Regions from separate parts of the Homo sapiens genome. Here all the other regions are linked to region 2. The links come from fine-mapping of genetic effects on gene expression. A gene starts in region 2. Each other region holds a variant in brackets. All regions are shown on one strand. Distances are between the middles of the regions. Region 1 overlaps ROPN1L (rhophilin associated tail protein 1 like). Region 2 holds the start of ROPN1L (rhophilin associated tail protein 1 like). Region 3 overlaps ANKRD33B (ankyrin repeat domain 33B).

What was found.
Region 1: its variant is fine-mapped to the expression of ROPN1L in whole blood (INTERVAL, PIP above 0.99).
Region 3: its variant is fine-mapped to the expression of ROPN1L in whole blood (TOPMed, PIP 0.97).

The regions. Positions count from the first base shown.
Region 1 is chr5:10,461,900-10,464,575 of GRCh38, reverse strand. The region is part of intron 4 of ROPN1L (rhophilin associated tail protein 1 like); the gene reads right to left. It overlaps LOC124900940, which reads right to left. Exons shown (of 1, transcript XM_047417967.1): 1 at 1-2,676. The coding sequence starts at 606. Among named protein-coding and RNA genes, the nearest start is that of MIR6131, 15 kb to the left of the region's middle. The variant T/C (reference allele first, on the strand shown) is at 1,353.
Region 2 is chr5:10,440,436-10,443,111 of GRCh38, reverse strand. It overlaps ROPN1L (rhophilin associated tail protein 1 like), which reads right to left and starts at 1,233. Exons shown (of 5, transcript NM_031916.5): 1 at 814-1,233. The coding sequence starts at 944. ROPN1L-AS1 (ROPN1L antisense RNA 1) reads left to right here and starts at 1,261. Exons shown (of 2, transcript NR_102746.1): 1 at 1,261-1,424; 2 at 1,739-2,377. RefSeq lists a silencer at 1,120-1,379.
Region 3 is chr5:10,605,866-10,608,541 of GRCh38, reverse strand. All of the region lies in intron 1 of ANKRD33B (ankyrin repeat domain 33B), which reads right to left. Among named protein-coding and RNA genes, the nearest start is that of ANKRD33B, 43 kb to the right of the region's middle. RefSeq lists an enhancer at 327-576 and a silencer at 1,247-1,296. The variant C/T (reference allele first, on the strand shown) is at 1,135.

The DNA.
Region 1 (2,676 bases), 21 kb before region 2:
GGTGGGAGAAGTGGCTGCTGCACAGGGTCCCAGTTCTTTGGAGGCTTGGGACATGGATTTGGAATGAGATGGAACCACCCATGTCCCAGGTGGCTCTGTCAGGCGGAGTAGCCGCATCAGAGAGCACAAAAGAAGAGAAGAGGTGCGCGGATCGGGCAGGAGAAGGGGCCCAGCATGACCCGGATGGCGGTGCAGAAGCAGAGGCTGTGGGCACCAGGAGGAGAGCTGGGGACAAAGTACTGTGTCGTCCATGTGACTGCAGACACCAGCCAGGATGGTGTCAAGAATAAGGCGGACAGAAGGGATGGCTTGGGAGCTGCGGTCTTCCACGAGGACAGGAGGGTTGGAGTGACAGTGGATGACAGAGGAAGGAGGAAAAAGAGGGACCATGGAGTCCAGAGGCTCAGCCCATGGTGGGCAGAGGGGATGTGAGTTTGAAGGAAGGAGAGGAAACGATGTGGAAGGGACAAGGAGACGAGGACGGCTGGGACAGGTGGGGCAGGGCACAGAACGCAGGCTCCACTGGCACAGGAAGGGAGGCGGAGGCTGGCGGATCACTTGAGCGCCAGCTCCTGGTGCTGTGGCCTGCATCCTAGGTGGCATCATGGCCGGTTGGAAAGGGTGGGAGGAGGGGACAAGACTCTGGGTGGTGATGACAGGCCAGGGGGCTTCTCAGGAGGCTGAGGCGAGCAGGGGTGTGTGCTGTGCCAGAAGGCGGCCCTGGGACCAGCCCCCATTGGTCCCTATCCCTGGCTTACTGTCCTCTTGGCACTGAACATGACCTACTGTCTTAAAATCTGCTTGTCTGATGTCTGTCTGCTCCACAGGGCAAAACTCCAGGGGTCAGGGCGTGACCTGTTCACTGACTACATCCCCGGCACCTGCGCCAATGCCTGGCACAGAGCAGGTGCTCAATAAACTGTACTGTGGGCAATTCGAGATGAGAGGTGTGGGGCTCAGGGACAAACCATAACCAGCACTTGGGGGGCAGTGGTCCCAAGGGGAAGTGCCGGGAAGACCTCAGGGACCCCATCTCCCTTGGGGCTGGAGCCTGGAGGACCTGGGCCCTTTCCTGCCCTTGCACCTAGAAGGCCCTTTCTTGCTGTTAACCAGGCTTACTCTGCAGCACCACAGCTCCCCGGACCCTGCGGTTGTCACCACCACCTCTGCCCACCCCACCAGCCCTGGGCTGCTCTCTCTGCCTCCCCATAGGTAGTGCAGGGTGCAGAGTCAGCACCCAATGATGGTTTAGGGAATGAACAAATGAGAACTTCCGCAGGACCCAAGAGCTTTGTTCCTTTTTACTCTGCATCTTGTCTTTAAAGGGAGGATTCATTAATCTTGTTTAAAAA[T/C]GTTACAGGTGATCAGAACACTGGACAATATATTCCAACGTTAGCTCCAAGTCATGCTTCAGAGCAGAACCAGCCTTACATCACATGCAGCCTGGTGCAAATACAACATAACATGCAATGTGTCGGGGTCATATAGCAAGTTCATCAGAGTGAGAATTGCGTGGCTGATGTCAATGACATCCTCAAGTTTCTGCAAATGATCCTGCATCCGTGGCACTACTGTCAGGAGGTCCACCAGCAGTAATCCATGTCTACGTTTCATTGTGGAGAAATGAATTCTATCTCACTTTTTAAGTTATTATTATTATTATTATTATTATTGTTGTTATTATTTGAGACGGAGTCTCGATCTTGTTGCTCAGGCTGAAGTGGAATGGCACAATCTCGGGTCACTGTAACCTCTGCCCCCCCAGGGCTCAAGAGATTCTCTTGCCTCAGCCTCCTGAGTAGCTGGGATTACAGGCACCCACCACCACACCTGGTTATTTTTTTAGTAGAGATGGAGTTTTGCCATATTGGCCAGGCTGGTCTCGAACTCCTGATCTCAAGTGATCCACCTGCCTCGGACTCCCAAAGTGCTGGGATTACAGGCGTGAGGCACCGTGCCCAGCCTCTATCTCACTTTTTAACATGCTACAATTTAGTACCACCTGACATGCTGTACATAGGAATCAGGATAGATCTGGGATAAATGAGTCTTAATGACAAGATACATTCTCTCCCTCTAAAGTCTAAAAAAACCTGAGCCTCAGCCCACATGGGTGGGAGCCACGGGAGAGGTCGGGCTCCCTTCTGAGGTGCTGCTTGCTTTCGCTGATGGCCTTTGATCTGCGGCTCCACTTACACACACCCTGAATACTATCAGGTGTGCCTAAACCTTCTGCCAAACACGGGATTCGTTGGGACAAAGTTATTGCAGACAAGGGATGTGATATTGTGAAATATATATTTGGTCTTCAACCCCCGCTCCTGGCATACAAGTAAAATCTGTGGAATCTCCAAAGTGAGTTCTTTCTTTATGCTTGTGATTGGCTGATGGCCCAGGTAGCTTCAGGATGGGGCTGGTCACTGGAGAGCCCAAGGCAGGATTAGAGGGGTGGGACTTTCAGCCCAGCCCAACCTTGGAGGTGGGGAGAGGGGCTGATGGCTTAGGTGATCACTATTGGCCAATGATTTAATCAATCACAAAGCTTCCAGGAAAAAGAAACCCTAAAAGGACAGGGCTTAGAAAGTTTCCCGGAAGCTAAACACATCGAGACCAACAGGAAGGTGAACAAGAGCTCATTTGCGGGCAGGGAGGGGATGTACCTCAACTCCATGGGGG
Region 2 (2,676 bases):
AAGTGCTGGGATTACAGGCATGAACCACCAAGCCCAGCCAAAATTTGAAATGTTGATGACTAAAATATTTAAATTAAATTTACACCTGTGCTGACTCTTGTCATCATAAAAGTGAGTTTTTGTTTTACATCTGTTTATTGAAAAGGGGCAAAGAGCTCTCCTGTAAAACCAAGAGGATTTCTTTTAATGCCTCTAAGATCTGTTGACTTGTAACTTTGAGATTATGAATGTCTGTTCCTGGCAAGTGTTGGAATGTTTGTGGCAAAAAATAAACTGTGAAGCTTCATTTGCTGGACAGTTTACCCTGAGCACTCTAGGGATGATGACCTCAGTATGACCACGGTCGTTCCGGTTCTAATAAATTTAACCAGCTCTGGGTATACATAGCTCTGAGAGGACTCTCTGCAGATGAGGAACTTAGCTAAAATATTCCTCTTTGTAAAGTCATTTCACAAAGTGACTGCAACCGTGTAATTTTTTTAACATAATGTAAACACTTTTTTGCCCAATGCAATTACTTTGTTAAGTTTTAGTCTATCTTCATCATAAACACTTTTAAACAATTGAGTTGCCATTACGTTGTAGGTAAGTGAGCATTTTGCAATGATTTCGGGTCTCATAGTCGATAAATCGAAATGGTTCCTAGATAAAACACTCAAGTATAGATGTCACCAATGCTAAGGGGAAAGTTTTGCCTGATACTCTTAAGGACGCTGAGTGCCGCGTAAGGCCCCTGGTCCGGGAGGAGGGCTCTCTGGGCTCGTCTGGCTTGGGCATGTAGACCGGACAGCTCCCCGGGCCAAGGGCGCTTACCCCGCGGACCACCGCAGCACGTCGGCCGGCTGGGTGCGGATGGCAGCCTTGGTGAATTGCTTCAGGATGTCCGGCAGCTCCGGGGGAATGTGGATCTGCTGAGCGCAGAACATGGTGTCGGGAAGCGGCATCGCTCTCCGCAGAAGGGACCAGGCTGGTGAATCGCGGCGCGCTGCGAGGAAGAAGGGCGGCTGTCGGCTACGACGCGGTGGACCCGCTAGCAGCGCGGGGCTTGCGGCCAGGGCCGCCTCCCATCCCGTTCCCGAGGTTGGGGCCGGATTCGCGGGGCTCTTACCCGCTCCTCCGCGGGCTTCGGGAGAAATTCGGACCAACTGCCACTCCGACAACACCCTAGACCCTGCAGTTCCCTAGCGCCAGCCGCCACTACGGACGCGCTCGGTATCCAGGCACCCGGGACGCGAGCAGGCCCCGCCCCTGGAGCCGCGCACGCGCACGCGGCCCTGAGCGAGGCGGGGCTGCTCCCGGGCTGGACAAGGAGGTGCTGGCGTAGTCCGACTAGCAGCAGCCGCTGCTCCCCGGTGGTTCAGAGCCGCGCGAGCTGAGCGTTTCGCCTACAAAAGCATCTTCGGATCGGTTTCCCACCGCCGAATGTGAGCGGCGAACTCACGAAGGACTCCCTCTTCCCCTTGCTCTGGCTGCGTGAGGCTGAGGCTAGGGGACTCGGGCCTGCTAGGAGGGAAGCGGGTTAAGTGAAGGGGCTGATCGCCTGGGCGGCACGGGCCCCGCTGCGGGACCCGCCTGCGCCTGGGGCCGCTCCTCCAAACTTCTCGGGCTTCGAACTTCGCACATGCTGTTCCCTGGCCTAAGCCATCCCGTAGTGAACCTGAGTTCTTAATTTAAAAAGCCGCTTAGACAGTGGGCAGTTTCCAGCTAAAACACTATTGTATTTGTTTTCTTACGATAGGTTGCTTGAGCCAATGTGACTGGCTCTAGGAGGAAATAAATCACATCTGTCAAAAGAGCCTCGAGTCGAAGGATAGGAGAAACCTCGAATTTGGTGGGTGCTGACCAAGGCACCATGCAAGGGGTTAACTTTGCTTTAGGGGGTGACCTGGCTGGCTGCTGCAGTTGCCGTTAACAGCCACCGAATGGATGAGACTCCAGATCCACCTCCTCCTGCGTTCCTCAAAACAGGAAGATGGAGAACTACGGAGAGCTACTTCCCAGAGGGGCCGATGGCAAGCACTCCCTTCAAGGAAACTGGGGAAGTTGCCCGATTTTGATCGTTTCCATCCAAACACCCACCAGACAATATATACATACACATTTCTAAATTAACAGCATTGGCAAAAACTGAAAATACTTGTATTTAAAGTTGATGACAGTATGAAAACAAGAAATCCGTCCGGGCGCGGTGGGTCACGCCTGTAACCCCAGCACTGATCACAAGGTCAGGAGTTCGAGACTAGCCTGGCTAACATGGTGAAACCCCCTTCTCTACAAAAATTGGCTGGGCGTAGTGGCGCGTGCCTGTATTCCCAGCTACTTGGGAGGCTGAGGCAGGAGAATAGCTTGAGCCCGGGAGGTGGAGGTTGCCGTGAGCAGAAATGGCACCACTGCACTCCAGCCTGGGCGACAGAGTAAGACTCTGTCCCCGCCCCCCTCCACCCAAAAAAAGAAAAAAAAAAAAAGGAATCTTCTATGTTGTTGAGAGGGATGTTAATTAGTACCTTTATGGGGCAGTAATGTAACACTAAAATTTTTCGATGATCGTGCAATATTACTTCTGGGAACTTACCCTACAGAAATACTATAAAAAGTAATATGGACAAAAATCTTCACCATATAAATTGGGTAAATGTCTTTTGGAAAACAAATCATGGCCTGGCCACACAATGGTAT
Region 3 (2,676 bases), 170 kb before region 2:
TCAAGCTCATCCCACCTCCCCATAAACACAGGAATGAACCTGAGAGTTGCTCCCATTGGTCTAACAATCTACCTCAGCCCCAAGGCAATCCTGATTCGCTACTGCAGCCTTGTGTTTTGCAGGGAAGAAACCTTCCTTGCTCTTCCCCTTCAGAACTACCACGGCTCTTTTTTTTTTTTTTTTTTAGATGGAGTCTCGCTCTGTTGCCTAGGCTGGAGTGCAGTGGCACAATCTTGGCTCACTGCAATGTCCGCCTCATGGGTTCAGGCGATTCTCCTGCCCCAGCCTCCTGAGTAGCTGAGACTACAGTCATGCACCACCACGCCCATTTTTTTTTTTTTTTTTGTATTTTTTTAGTGGAGACAGGGTTTCACCATGTTGATCAGGCTGGTCTCGAGCTCCTGACCTCAAGTGATCCACCCGCCTCAGCCTCCCAAAGTCCTAGGAATATAGGCGTGAGCCCCCGTACTCAGCCTGCTGTTGCTATTCTTGATTACCAAGCTTCGTTTTAAAAGTCAAATTCAGTTCTCAGTCCTTCTAGAAGGAGTGGTGATGAAGATTGTGCAAAACACCAGACCACAGGTCACGAGAGGACGCCTAAGACGACATGCTCAGGCTGCCAGGAATAGGCATTTGTGCTCCTCCTAGAGAGGGCTAAAGGAAACTGCTGCTAGGAGGCACTCAGTAACAAGGAGCTTTAAATAAGAAGATGAACTCACAGACAGTCCAGCAGGAAAACAAGCAGCTGGAAGCTCATCGTCCAGTGTGTTTCACTGTCCCAAGTAGACTTCAGTATTCCTCAAAAATGTCCCTGACAACACTCTCTATTCTCTTCCACTTATCATATACAGTAGCATGCACAGGAGGAAGATTCACTCAAGTATGGGCGACGGTCTGTGAAGAAGCTGGTGAAAGTACACACACAAAGTCTTTTTTAATTGTTTGAACCAGGACAATTCAGTTGCACTGGATTCAGCTGCAGTACTCACTGGCGTTATTCCGTTATCTATTTCTTCCTGCCTCTTGGTAAAATTGCATTTCCCCACCCTTTCTGAGTTCTGACTTGACCATCTGGTTTGCTTTGGGTAATTAAACGTAAGTGAAATAGCAGGTGTCACTTCCAGGAGGAAGTTT[C/T]GAGAGACGGTGGACGATGTGCCACCTTCCCTTTTCTTGACTTGACTGCCCTTGAAGCTCAGAGATGCAACTGCTCCCAGACTGGGCCTCCGGAGTGAGGGCAGAGAGAGCAGAGCCCTGCCCCCTCTAGCCGGCGCACAACAGCATGAATGAGCGAGAGGCAAACCTTTGTTATTTTAAGCCACTGGGACTTGAAGTGGTTTGTTATCACAGCATCACAGTCTATTCTGAGTGTGTGTGTGTGCGTGTAACAGTAGCATACATCATCTATTCATGTGTCAGGTTGCCTACTTTCTTTTTCCCTTGGGAAGAACTGTCCTTTATTTTAAGATTATGTCTTTGATACTTGATTGGGCACAAAATGTACTTATAAAATGGGCTGGGCGTGGTGGCTCATGCCTGTAACCCCAACACTTTGGGAGGCTGAGGTGGGTGGATCACTTGAGGTCAGGAGTTCAAGACCAGCCTGGCCAACATGGTGAAATCCTGTCTCTATTAAAAATACAAAAAAATGAGCCAGGTGTAGTAACGCACACCTGTAATCGCAACTACTCAGGAGGCTGAGGCAGGAGAATGGCATGAACCTGGGAGGCGGAGCTTGCAGCGAGCTGAGATTGCGCCACTGCCCTCTAACCTGGGCGACAGAGCAAGACTCCACCTCAAAAAAAAAAAAAAAAGACAGAGTCTTGCTCTGTCGCCAGGCTGGAGTGCAGTGGCACGATCTCAGGTCACTGCAACCTCCACCTCGTGGGTTCAAGTGATTCTCCTGCCTCAGCCTCCCGAGTAGCTGGGACTACAGGCACTCGCCAACACGCCCAGCTAATTTTTGTATTTTTAGTAGAGACAGGGCTTCACCATGTTGGCCAGGATGGTCTCGATCTCTTGACCTTGTGATCCGCCCACCTTGGCCTCCCAAAGTGCTGGGATTACAGGCGTGAGCTACTGTGCCAGGCCAATATTTGTATTTTTATCTATGCTTTTCTGCTTCAAATAAAGAGATGCCTAATAAACTGTTTTAAATAAAGAAATGACATTTTATTAATAAAATAAATAAATATGTAAAATACATCAAGATAATTCCTTCCAACATGGGGTCACCTTGTAGCCCTGTAATCAGGATTTGATAAATTCAAGGTTGTCAGTAATTCAAAACAATTTCCCTTTAGACTAAATTTTGCATAAAACGTAAATCTTATTATCACTGCAAACCTCTCGCTGGGATTTATGATTTTAGATTAGTAATGTATGAAACCACTACTTTGTTCAACTGTATTCCCTCTGCCAACTTCATGTATATACCTAATCTATTCCTATCTCAGAGGCTCATCTAATTTTCCCAACACTGGGAGTGGTTTCCACGCAGTGATCATACAAGCATTATGTGATGAAAGAAAACTAAGCCTGTTAACCGTTGACCTGAAGGCAGTGACTGTCAGTAACAATTACATGTTCTTCCAACCATTGATTCACTTAATCTTTCTGAAATTAAGCTTGGAATTTTTACAACAGATGTACAAAGCTCGACAGAGAACTTAAAGGAAC